2 separate regions of the Homo sapiens genome follow, and region 2 is linked to region 1. Evidence: fine-mapped expression QTL. Tissue or cell type: testis. Region 1 holds a variant in brackets; the other region holds the start of a gene. All regions are shown on one strand. Distances are from middle to middle.

Region 1 (5,260 bases):
CTCTCCACCTCCTACAGTCACAAAAGCAAATGGACAACTCTGGAGAATGCTCTTATGAACACAAAACGATGACCAGTCAACCCAGACACCCTCAAGACAGACCGAAGGTGTTAAGACCACCCTCTCCAACACAAAGTGTTCTAAACTTTATTGTTTTTTTCAAAATAGTGTTGTTGTTTTTTTTTTTTGAGACGGATCTCCTTCTGTTTGCCCAGGCTGGAGTGCAGTGGCACGATCTTGGCTTGCTGCAACCTCCGCCTCCCGGGTTCAAGTGATTTTCCTGCCTCGGCCTCCTGAGTAGCTGGGACTACAGGTATGCGCCATCATGCCGGGCTAATTTTTTGTATTTTTAGTAGAGACAGGGTTTCACCATGTTGGCCAGGCTGGTCTCCAACTCCTGACCTCAGGTGACCCGCCTGCCTCGGCCTCCCAAAGTGCTGGGATTACAGGTGTGAGCCATTGGGCCCAGCCGGAAAGAGTATATTCTTGGTCATTTCTGAGAATTTGCTTTTGGCAAATTGAGCTAGAGCCTAATCATGGCCCACAACTTGGAGGAAAAGTCTGAGACGGAGAAACAGCTGTAGGAGGGGTCAATAGCCCAGGTGCAATCGGTGCATGTGGCCAGGATGGATGAGCTCACTCTGAGCAAATGTGCCAAAGCAAGGGGCCCTGGGGAGCTGGGGGAAGAGCCAACAAAACAGAAGCGAAAGCAGGAGGAAATTCGCCAGGACGGCTCACACAGGAACCCAGAGGATGTAGGGATACAGTGGAAAGGTTGAACATACATGTAACTGGGGCCTTAGAAGGGGAAAAATGAGAGACTAGGGCAGAGTCACTATTTGAAAATATAATGGCTGAAAACGTCCAAAACTGACAAAAGACATCAAGCCATAACCCCAAGTAGCAATGCGAAGCCCAAGCAGGATGAATGCAAAGAAAATCACACCAAGGGGAGAGTCAGCGGCACAAAAAAGAAGAGAGAAAGAAAATCACGCCAAACATCATCATAGCAAAACCACTAAACAACAAAGAAAAACAAAAGATCTTAAAAGGAGCCTGAGGAAAACAAAACTGTGATCCGAGGAGCAACAAGAAGACTGGCAGCTGCCTTTTCAACAGAAACCATGGAAGTCAGAAGGGAATGATTTGTTCAAAATGCTTATTATTTCCAAAAATTAAGTGCCAACTTAGAATTCTATGTCCAGCAAAAAATATCCTTCAGGGCCGGGTGTGGTGGCTCACGCCTGTAATCCCAGCACTTTGGGAGGCCGAGGCAGGCGGATCACGAGGTCAGGAGTTCAAGACCGGCCTGGCCAACATGGTGAAACCCCGTCTCTACTAAAAATACAAAAACTAGCCGGGCGTGGTGGCACATGCCTGTAATCCCAGCTACTGAGGAGGCTGAGGCAGGGGAATCGCTTGAACCTGGGAGGCAGAGGTTGCAGCGAGCCGAGATCTCACCATTGCACTCCAACCTGGGTGACAGGGTGAGGCTCTGTCTCACAAAAAAAAAAAAAAAAAAGAATTCCTTCAGAAATAAAAAGGAATGATGGCATGTGTGAGGCAATAAGGTGACAGTGACTGCATATTTAACATTGTGGACTTGTTTTAAAACATTTTTGGTATGGTATTTAGGCTATGTTAACAAAATGATCCATATTTCAGGTTCACACTGAAATATTTACAGATGAACTGATATAATGTCTGTGCTTTGCTTCAACGCAATAGGGATGAGAGGAACCAGTTCAGAGAGCAGATCAGACCTTAGGTCAGACCTCCTCAGAGATCCCAAGATGCAGGATGCTGTGACATGGAGGAGAAGTCGGGGAAAAAATGGAAGTTCTTGTGCCTTCAAGTTAACACGACCCCAGCCTGCAACAAAGCCCTAAGCAGATACCTTGAGGAAAGTCAGCCCGAGACTGGATCCCTGGGGCTGAGAGGTCACAGAGCAACACTGAAGCCTCTAGGAACCATAGCCTGTTATCTCCAAGCCTCGTCTGAAAGCGAAACATACCAGAACAGTCTTGGGACAGAGGAGCTAGGGTCTGGATGCCCCCAAGGACCTCGTGTCCAGAAGGGAAAGAAAAACATGGAGACCTGGCATATTCACTTCCGGGCGTTTTCAATATGACAGGAGGCTATAAGAAAATTTCACGACTGCCCACTTGTGGATACAGCCAGAAATACAAAGCAAGAGTGAAAGTTTTGCCTACTCGGCACCTGAGTAGCTTCTTTTTTATTCAATTTTTATTGAGGTAAATTTCATGTAACATAAAATGAATTATTTTAAGGTGAACAATTCAGTGGCATTTAGCACATGTGGTGTTGTGCAACCACCATGGCTATTAATAGTTCCAAGACATTGGCCGGCTGCAGTCATGCCTGTAATCCCAGCACTTTGGGAGGCCGAGGCGGGCGGATCACGAGGTCAGGAGATCGAGACCATCCTGGCCAACACGGTGAAACCCCGTCTCTACTAAAAATACAAAAATTAGCCGGGCGTGGTGGTG[C/G]GCGCCTGTAGTCCCAGCTACTCGGGAGGCTGAGGCAGGAGAATGGCGTGAACCCGGGAGGCGGAGCTTGCAGTGAGCCGAGATCACGCCACTGCACTCCAGCCTGGGTGACAGAACGAGACTCCGTCTCAAAAAAAAAAAAAAAATTGTTCCAAAACATTTTCATCACTGCCTCGAAAAAATACTATTTAGCAGTCACTCCCCATTCCCCATCACCCCAGTCCCTGGTAACCACCAATCTGCTTTCTGACTTGAGTAGCTTCTTATCTCTGAACCTCTACCAGCAATTTATGAATGAGAGATGGACAAGACCATCAGGTATGTGGAGACGGTCCTAGAGAAGCTGCTAGAAAGTGACAGACAACCAGAGTAAGGGGTAGTGGAGCACTGTAATGCTGTGGAGAGGAGAGGGCAGCAGGAATGACAAACCCAGGAGGCATTGACTCAGGGAAAGAAGAGGAAGGCAGGGTCAGGTCGAGATCTTGGCCAAATCCCTGAGCTCATCAACCTAGGGTGCTCCATTGATGAATTTATCAAGAGTCATTGGCCGGGAGTGGTGGCTCACGCCTGTAATCACAGCACTTTGGGAGGCCAAGGCAGGTGGATCATTTGAGATTAGGAGTTGGAGACCAGCCTGGCCAACATGATGAAACCCCGTCTCTACTAAAATATGCAAAAATTAGCTGGGCGTGGTGGTGCATGCCTGTAATCTCAGCTACTCAGGAGGCTGAGACAGGAGAATCACTTGAATCCGGGACGCAGAGGTTGCAGTGAGCTGAGATCAAGCCACTGCACTCCCTCCAGCCTGGGCAGCAGAGCAAGACACCACCTCAAAAAAAAAAAAAAGCCATTAACAACTTTCTTTCTTTCTTTCTTTCTTTCTTTCTCTTTCTTTCTCTCTCTCTCTCTCTCTCTCTCTCCCTCTCTCTCTCTCTCTCTCTCCTCTCTCTCTCTCTCCTCTCTCTCTCTCTCTCTTTCTGTTTTTTTTTTGAGACAAGTTCTCACTCTGTCCTCTATCACCCAGGCTGGAGCACAGTGGCACAATCATAGTTCACTGCAACATAAAACTCTCGGGCTCAAGCGATCCTCCTGTCTCAGCCTCCCATGTAGCAGGGACTACAGGCATGTGCCACCAAGTCCGGTTAATACTTTTAAAATTTTTTGCAGAGATATGGTCTCACTTTGTTACCCAAGCTGGTCTCAGACTCCTGGGCTGAAGCAATCCTCCTGCCTCGACCTCCCAAAGCACTGGGATTACAGCCATAAGCCACCACATCTGGCCCCATTTTTCTTTACGATCTTTCAAGGACTTAGTTTGCACATAGGAAGCAGAAAGGAATTGTAAATTCAGTTCCATCAGCATCTACTTGGGGCTTACACACAAGTATTAATTAATTCTCACAACAGTTCCAACAATAGTGGGATCATTTTTACCTCCATGTTACAGATGTGGAAACTGAGGATTGCAAACTTGAAGCACCTCGTCCAAGGTCATTCAGTAAATACCTTGCAGAGAGGAGGCTGGGCCAGGCCTAAATCCAGAATCAGCCCTCCTGGCCCTGCCCTGATGTTCCCAAGACACAGCAGATAGAGTTCTGACATACATGGAGGAGGGAGGCAGCCCAGAGGGCGAGCTGGGTCCCTTCAGGAAGGGAGGAAAAGCAGCATCCAGACTGATCCATGAAACAGGTACTCACAGAACAGCCATCATGTGCCAACATGTCTTTGGGCAGTCACTCAGACACAGTGGCCGACCTGAATGTGCTGATATTTTGACGAGAACAATACAACACAAATGAATACCTACACAAGGGAGAGCAGTTTAGGCGGTGAGTGCTGCGAGAAAGGAAAAAGTAGGGGAGTGACAAAGACTGGTCCGGAGTATATAAAGAGCTCTGACAACTCAACAATAAAAAGACAATCCAAGTTGAAAACAAGCCAAAGACTTATTGGCTGATAAGCACATGAAAAGGGGTTCAGCATCATTAATTGTCAGAGGCAGGGTCACACACCCACTAGTCTCATGGGCTAGGATACTGGTTCTCAACCAGGGGCAATTTGCCGGCCCCCCCCTCCCCAAACAAGGGACATTTGGCAATCTCTGGACAGACATTTCTGGTTGTTACAAATAGGTGGGGCACGGTAGGCTAAAATTGCCCCCCTAGGCTGGGCACGGTGGCTCACATCTGTAACCCCAGCACTTTGTGAGGCTGTGGTGGGCAGATTACCTGGGCTCAGGAGTTCAAGAACACCCTGAGCAACAGGGTGAAACCCCGTCTCTATGAAAAATACAAAAAAATTAGCTGGGTGTGGTGGCACGCGCTTGTAGTCCCAGCTACTTGGGAGGCTGAGGCAGGAGAATTGCTTGAACCCAGGAGGCGGAGGTTGCAGTGAGCCAAGATCGTGCCACTGCACTCCAGCCTGGGTGACAGAGAGAGACTCTGTCTAAAAAAGAAAAAAACAAAAAGCCCCTCCGCAAAAGATATCTGTGTCATAATCCTTGGAAACTGTGAATGTTACCTTCTATGACCAAAAAAGGGGGCTTTCCAGAAGTGGTGAGTTTAAGGGTATTGAGATGCAAAGATTATCCTAGATTATCCTGGTGGCCCTAAATGCAATCACATGTATGAGAGAGAGGCAGAAGGACATTAGACACACACAGACGAGAATGTCATGTGAAGACAGAACACAGGTTTGAAGATGCTGGCCTTCAGGACAGGAATGATGTGGCCACAAAATTAAGGAATTTG
Region 2 (5,000 bases), 56 kb after region 1:
AATTAGCCGGGCATGGTGGCACACACCTGTAATCCCAGCTACTGGGGAGGCTGAGGCAGGAGAATTGCTTGAGCCGGGGAGACGGAGGTTGCAGTGAGCCGAGACTGCGCCACTGCACTCCAGCCTGACTGACAAGAGTGAGATTGTCTCAAAAAAAAAAAAAAAAGTAATCACTAGAAAAGAAGCTACATATGTACATAACATCCAAATAACCAAGAGGAGAAAAAAATGGGACTTGATTAATCAAAACAAAAACAAAAAAGAAAGAAAGAAAGGGGGAGAAAAAAAAACAAGGGCTGGGTGTGCTGGCTCATGCCTGTAATCCCAGCACTTTGGAAGCCAAGGTGGGTGGATCTCTTGAGCTCAGGAGGTCAAGACCAGCCTGGGCAACATGGCGAAACCCCGTCTCTATTAAAAAAAAAATTAATACAACAATTATCCTGGAGTGGTGGTGCACACCTGTAGTCCCAGCTACCCAGGACGCTGAGACGGGAGGATCGCTTGATCCCGGGGATGTCGAGGCTGCCATGATCGCACCACTGCCCTCCAGCCAGGGTGGCAGACTGAGACCCCATCTCAAAAAATAAATAAATAAAAGCAAACAAGAAAAAAAAAGGCTTGAAACATATCTGATAGATAAAGGGCTAATCAACACAATATATAAAGAACTGCAAATCAGTAAACTAAGAGCAAATAACCCAATATAAAGACATTAAAGGGTAGCCACGGACATCTCAGACGACGAAAAACAAAAGACAGTAAACGTATAATAAAACATGTAATTGCAAGGTGATCCGGGAATAGTAAGCGAAAAGCAACAATTAAATACTATTTTCTCATCCACCAGAACGCCAAAAATTAAAAAGCCTAACAATGTCCAGGGCTGGCGAGAATGTGGCAGAAGGTGATGTCACATACCCTGCAAGTGGGAATCTAAACAGATTCAGGGTTTTGGTTTTTTTTTAATCGCAATTAGGTGGCCTGTTAAATTTTTTTTCTTGAGACAGAGTTTTGCTCTTGTTGCCCAGGCTGGAGTGCAATGGCTCGATCTTGGCTCACCGCAACCTCGACCTCCCAGGTACAAGCGATTCTCCTGTCTCAGCCTCCCAAGTAGCTGGGAGTACAGGTATGTGCCACTACACCCAGCTAATTTTTTTGTATTTAGTAGAAACGGGGTGTCTCCATGTTAGGCTGGTCAGGAACTCCTGACCTCAGGTGATCCACCCACCTTGGCCTCCCAAAGTGCTGGGATTACAGGAGCGTGTGCCACTGTGCCCAGCCACTTTTTTTTTTTTTTTAGACGGAGTCTTGCTCTGTCGCCCAGGCTGGAGTACAGTGGCGCCATCTCAGCTCACTGCAACCTCCGCTTCCCGGATTCAAGTGATTCTCCTGCCTCAGATTCCCATTAGCTGGGATTACAGGTGCCCACCACCGCCTGGCATGGTGGCTCACACCTGTAATCCCAACACTTTGGGAGGCCGAGGTGGGCAGATCACCTGAGGTCAGGAGTTCGAGACCAACCTGGCCAACATGGTGAAAACCCGTCTCTACTAAAAATACAAAAAATTAGCCAGGTGTGGTGGCGGATGCCTGTAATCCCAGCTATTCAGGAGGCTGAGGCAGGAGAATCGCTTGAAGCCAGGAGGCAGAGGTTGCAACGAGCTAAGTTCGAGCCACTGCACTCCAGCTTGGGCGACAGGGCGAGACTCCGTCTCAAAAAAAAAAAAAATGTAAACACACATTCCCTTTAACCCAGCAGAACATGGGAACCCAAGGGCATTCAGCCTGTGGCGCGACCAGGCGGCCTGACTTGAGCTCACGTAGAAATTCGGCATTTTTGAACCAAGAGACAGCACTTGGGATCCGGAATGTCTGGACTTGGGCACGGCGCTGTGGAGCTGGCGCCGTTGGGAGCCATGCGAGTTCTGGGTCGGTAGGTCACCTCAGAGGTGGGGAGAAGGTTCTCTGAGACCGACATGGGGGCTAGTGCTGGCACCACCGGACATGGGGCATTTCAGACACAGGGCGAGCACATTCCCTAGTTACCAGGGTTCATTCGAGTCAGTCACGTCACAGGCTGGCAATGGGCTAACTCCTCCTCAACAATCACACGGGGCTTGCCTCATAGAATGTTTTAAAAAAGGAAAGGAGGCTGGCGCAGGCGCCAACCGTCTCAGAACCCTGAGCACTGCCCCACCCCCACCCTGCCCGCCATAGCCTGGGCTGTTGTGGGGGAGGGGTGACCATTTATCACGAAACAAAAAATTGCGCCACAGCAGCTCCCTCCCTCCCCCACCTTTACGGTTGCAGCTGCACGTCCCACGTGCAGCACCACCCCCTGACACGTGCGGCACCACCCCCTGACACGTGCGGCACCACCCCCTGACACGTGCGGCACCACCCCCTGACACGTGCGGCACCACCCCCTGACACGTGCGGCACCACACAGCTAGTGCCGGAACTTTTTGTGCAGAGAAAGAAGACCCTGCACCCGCGCGGAGGGAGCCCTTTTGAGATTGCAGGAGAGAAGATGAGAATGGGACTATTTTCAATAACTGTGCACATGCAAGTCACAAACATTCCAGATCCCTTGACTTGCTTGCGGAGGGAGCGGCCGGCGGAGGGAGCGGCAGGTGGAGGGAGTGGCACGAGGCATGCGGAGGGAGCTGCACCGACATCACATAAACGCACTGGGCAGCTCGCAGGCGCCATTCGCTCTTCAGACGCCGGAGACGTAGGAGTGGGTCTTCAGACTCCAAAGGGGTTGGACTAATGGCGGATGCTGAGGCGAGGGCTGAGTTCCCGGAGGAGGCCAGACCTGACAGGGGCACCTTGCAGGTGTTGCAAGATATGGCCAGCCGCTTGCGAATCCATTCCATCAGGGCCACATGCTCCACGAGCTCCGGGTAAGTTCTCCTCATTGAAGTCTGGGTCATGCAGGGCCACGGGCCCGGTGGCTTCAGGCCTGGTGGCCATGAGGCCGTGTGGTGAAGGGAGAGCCTTCAGAGGCACAATGGGCTGTGTCGTAATGCCCTGTCTTGGGCTGTTGGGGCCCGGTCGAGCACCCTAGATGGCAGCGAGGCACTATTCCCGCCAACCCAAGGGTCGGTCGGTTGGTTGGTCAGCCGCGGGTTCTGGAGCCCGCCCCTCAATTTACCCACGGCCAAAGTTCTGGAGGTCGCCAAGATCTCCAGTTGGGAGACAAAGGATCCAGACTGGACTGAGGTGGCGGGAGAATGTCACTGGGATCAGATTGGGCTAGCTGTGGTTTTCATTTTAGCGGGGAGCAGGGCTTCCCTGGTAAGCAGTTGTACTGGATCCCCGAGGGTGAATGAGCGACTCTAACCCAGGATGTGAGGATAAAAAGCAATTAAAATTCCAGCCTGGGCAACATGGCGAAACCCCGTCTCTTACCAAAAAATAAAAATAAAAAATGAGTCGGGCATGGGGGCGCACACCTGCACTCCCAGCTATTCGGGAGGCTTGCTTGTGCTGTTGGGTTTGCTGGTATGCAGTTGATGGTTTTTGCATCAGTTTGAGGGATATTGGTCTCTAGTTGTATTGTAGTATTTGGTTTTGGTATCAAAGTGTAATGCTGGCTTCATAGGATGTTTCAAAGTGTTCCATCTTAAATTTTTTGGAGTGGCTGGGTGTAGTGGCTGCCACCTGTAATCCCAAGCACTTTGGGAGGCCGAGGCAGACGGATCGTGTGAGCCTAGAAACTAGTTCGAGATCAGCCTGGGCAAGATGGCGAACCTCTGTACAAAATGTTACAAAAATTAGCTGGGCGTGGTGGCACGTGCCTGTAGTCCCAGCTACGCGGGAGGCTGAGAGGCTCAGGTTACAGTGAACTGAGATTGCGCCACCGCACTCCAGCCTGGGCAAGAGCGAGACCGTGCCTCAAAGAAAAAAAAGTTAAACCCAGCTGAGGGCGGTGGCTCACGCCTGCAGTCTCAGTACGTGGGGCCTGAGGAGGGAGGATCGCTTGAGCCCAGGAGTTCGCATTCAGCTTGGCAAACAGTGAGACCCTGTCTCTAAAAAAATAAAGTAAAAGAAACCGGGAATTGAGTACGAATTGGAACAAAAATGAGCTGTTGAATTTGCTAGTATGCGGTTGATGGTTTTTGCATCAGTATAAGGGATATTGGTCTACAGGTTTTTTTTGTTTTTTTTTTCTTTTTTTGTTTTGAGACGAAGTATCACTGTCGCCCAGGCTGGAGTGCAGTGGCACGATTTTGGCTCACTACAAGCTCCGCCTCCTGGGTTCACGCCATTCTCCTGCCTCAGCCTCCGGAGTAGCTGGGACTGCAGGCGCCCGCCACCACGCCTGGCTAATTTTTTCTGTTTTTTAGTGGAGACGGGGTTTCCCCGTGTTAGCCAGGATGGTCTCGATCTCCTGACCTCGTGATCCGCCCGCCTCGGCCTCCCAAAGTGCTGGGATTACAGGCGTGAGCCACCGCGCCTGGCCTGGTCTATAGTTTTGTTGTAGTATTTGCTTTTGGTATCAAAAGTGTAATGCTGGCTTCATAGGATGAGTTTCAAAGTGTTCCACCTTAAATTTTTTGGAGAGGTCGGGCGTGGTGGCTCCAACCTGTAATCCCAGGACTTTGAGAGGCCAAAGCAGGCGGATCGTGTGAGCCTAGAAAGTTCGAGATCAGCCTGGGCAAGATGGCAATCCCCTGTGCAGAATGTTACAAAAATTAGCTGGGCGTGGTGGCACGTGCCTGTAGTCCCAGCTACGCGGGGGACAGAGTTTGCAGTGAACTAAGATTGTGCCACTACGGCCTGGGGAACAGAGGAAGCGAGACCTTGTAGAGAAAAAAAAATTTTTTTTTGAGGAGTTTGAAGAAGACTGTTGTTAATTTTTCTTTAAATGTTTGGCAGTAATTACGAATGAGGCTTTTATTTATTGGGCGTTTTTTTTATTACTGCTTTAGTCTCCTTACTAGTTAGTTGTAGGTCTATTCAGATTTTCTTGTCCTGATTAAGTTTTGTGAGGC

Direction of the effects. Alleles are on the strand shown, and positions count from the first base shown. SD is a standard deviation of normalised expression in the study named.
As copies of C replace G in region 1, the expression in testis of the gene that starts at base 2,708 in region 2 goes up (small effect, 0.09 SD a copy in GTEx).

Evidence for each region. PIP is the estimated chance that this variant, and not a neighbour inherited with it, causes the effect.
Region 2: it holds the start of TKTL1, and the variant in region 1 is fine-mapped to the expression of TKTL1 in testis (GTEx, PIP 0.96).

What each region holds. Positions count from the first base shown.
Region 1 is chrX:154,237,231-154,242,490 of GRCh38, forward strand. It overlaps the pseudogene TEX28P3. Among named protein-coding and RNA genes, the nearest start is that of OPN1MW3, 18 kb to the right of the region's middle. The variant C/G (reference allele first, on the strand shown) is at 2,511.
Region 2 is chrX:154,293,088-154,298,087 of GRCh38, forward strand. It overlaps TKTL1 (transketolase like 1), which reads left to right and starts at 2,708. Exons shown (of 13, transcript NM_012253.4): 1 at 2,708-2,906. The coding sequence starts at 2,773. TEX28 (testis expressed 28) reads right to left here and starts at 2,037. Exons shown (of 5, transcript NM_001586.3): 1 at 1,943-2,037. RefSeq lists an enhancer at 1,899-2,400.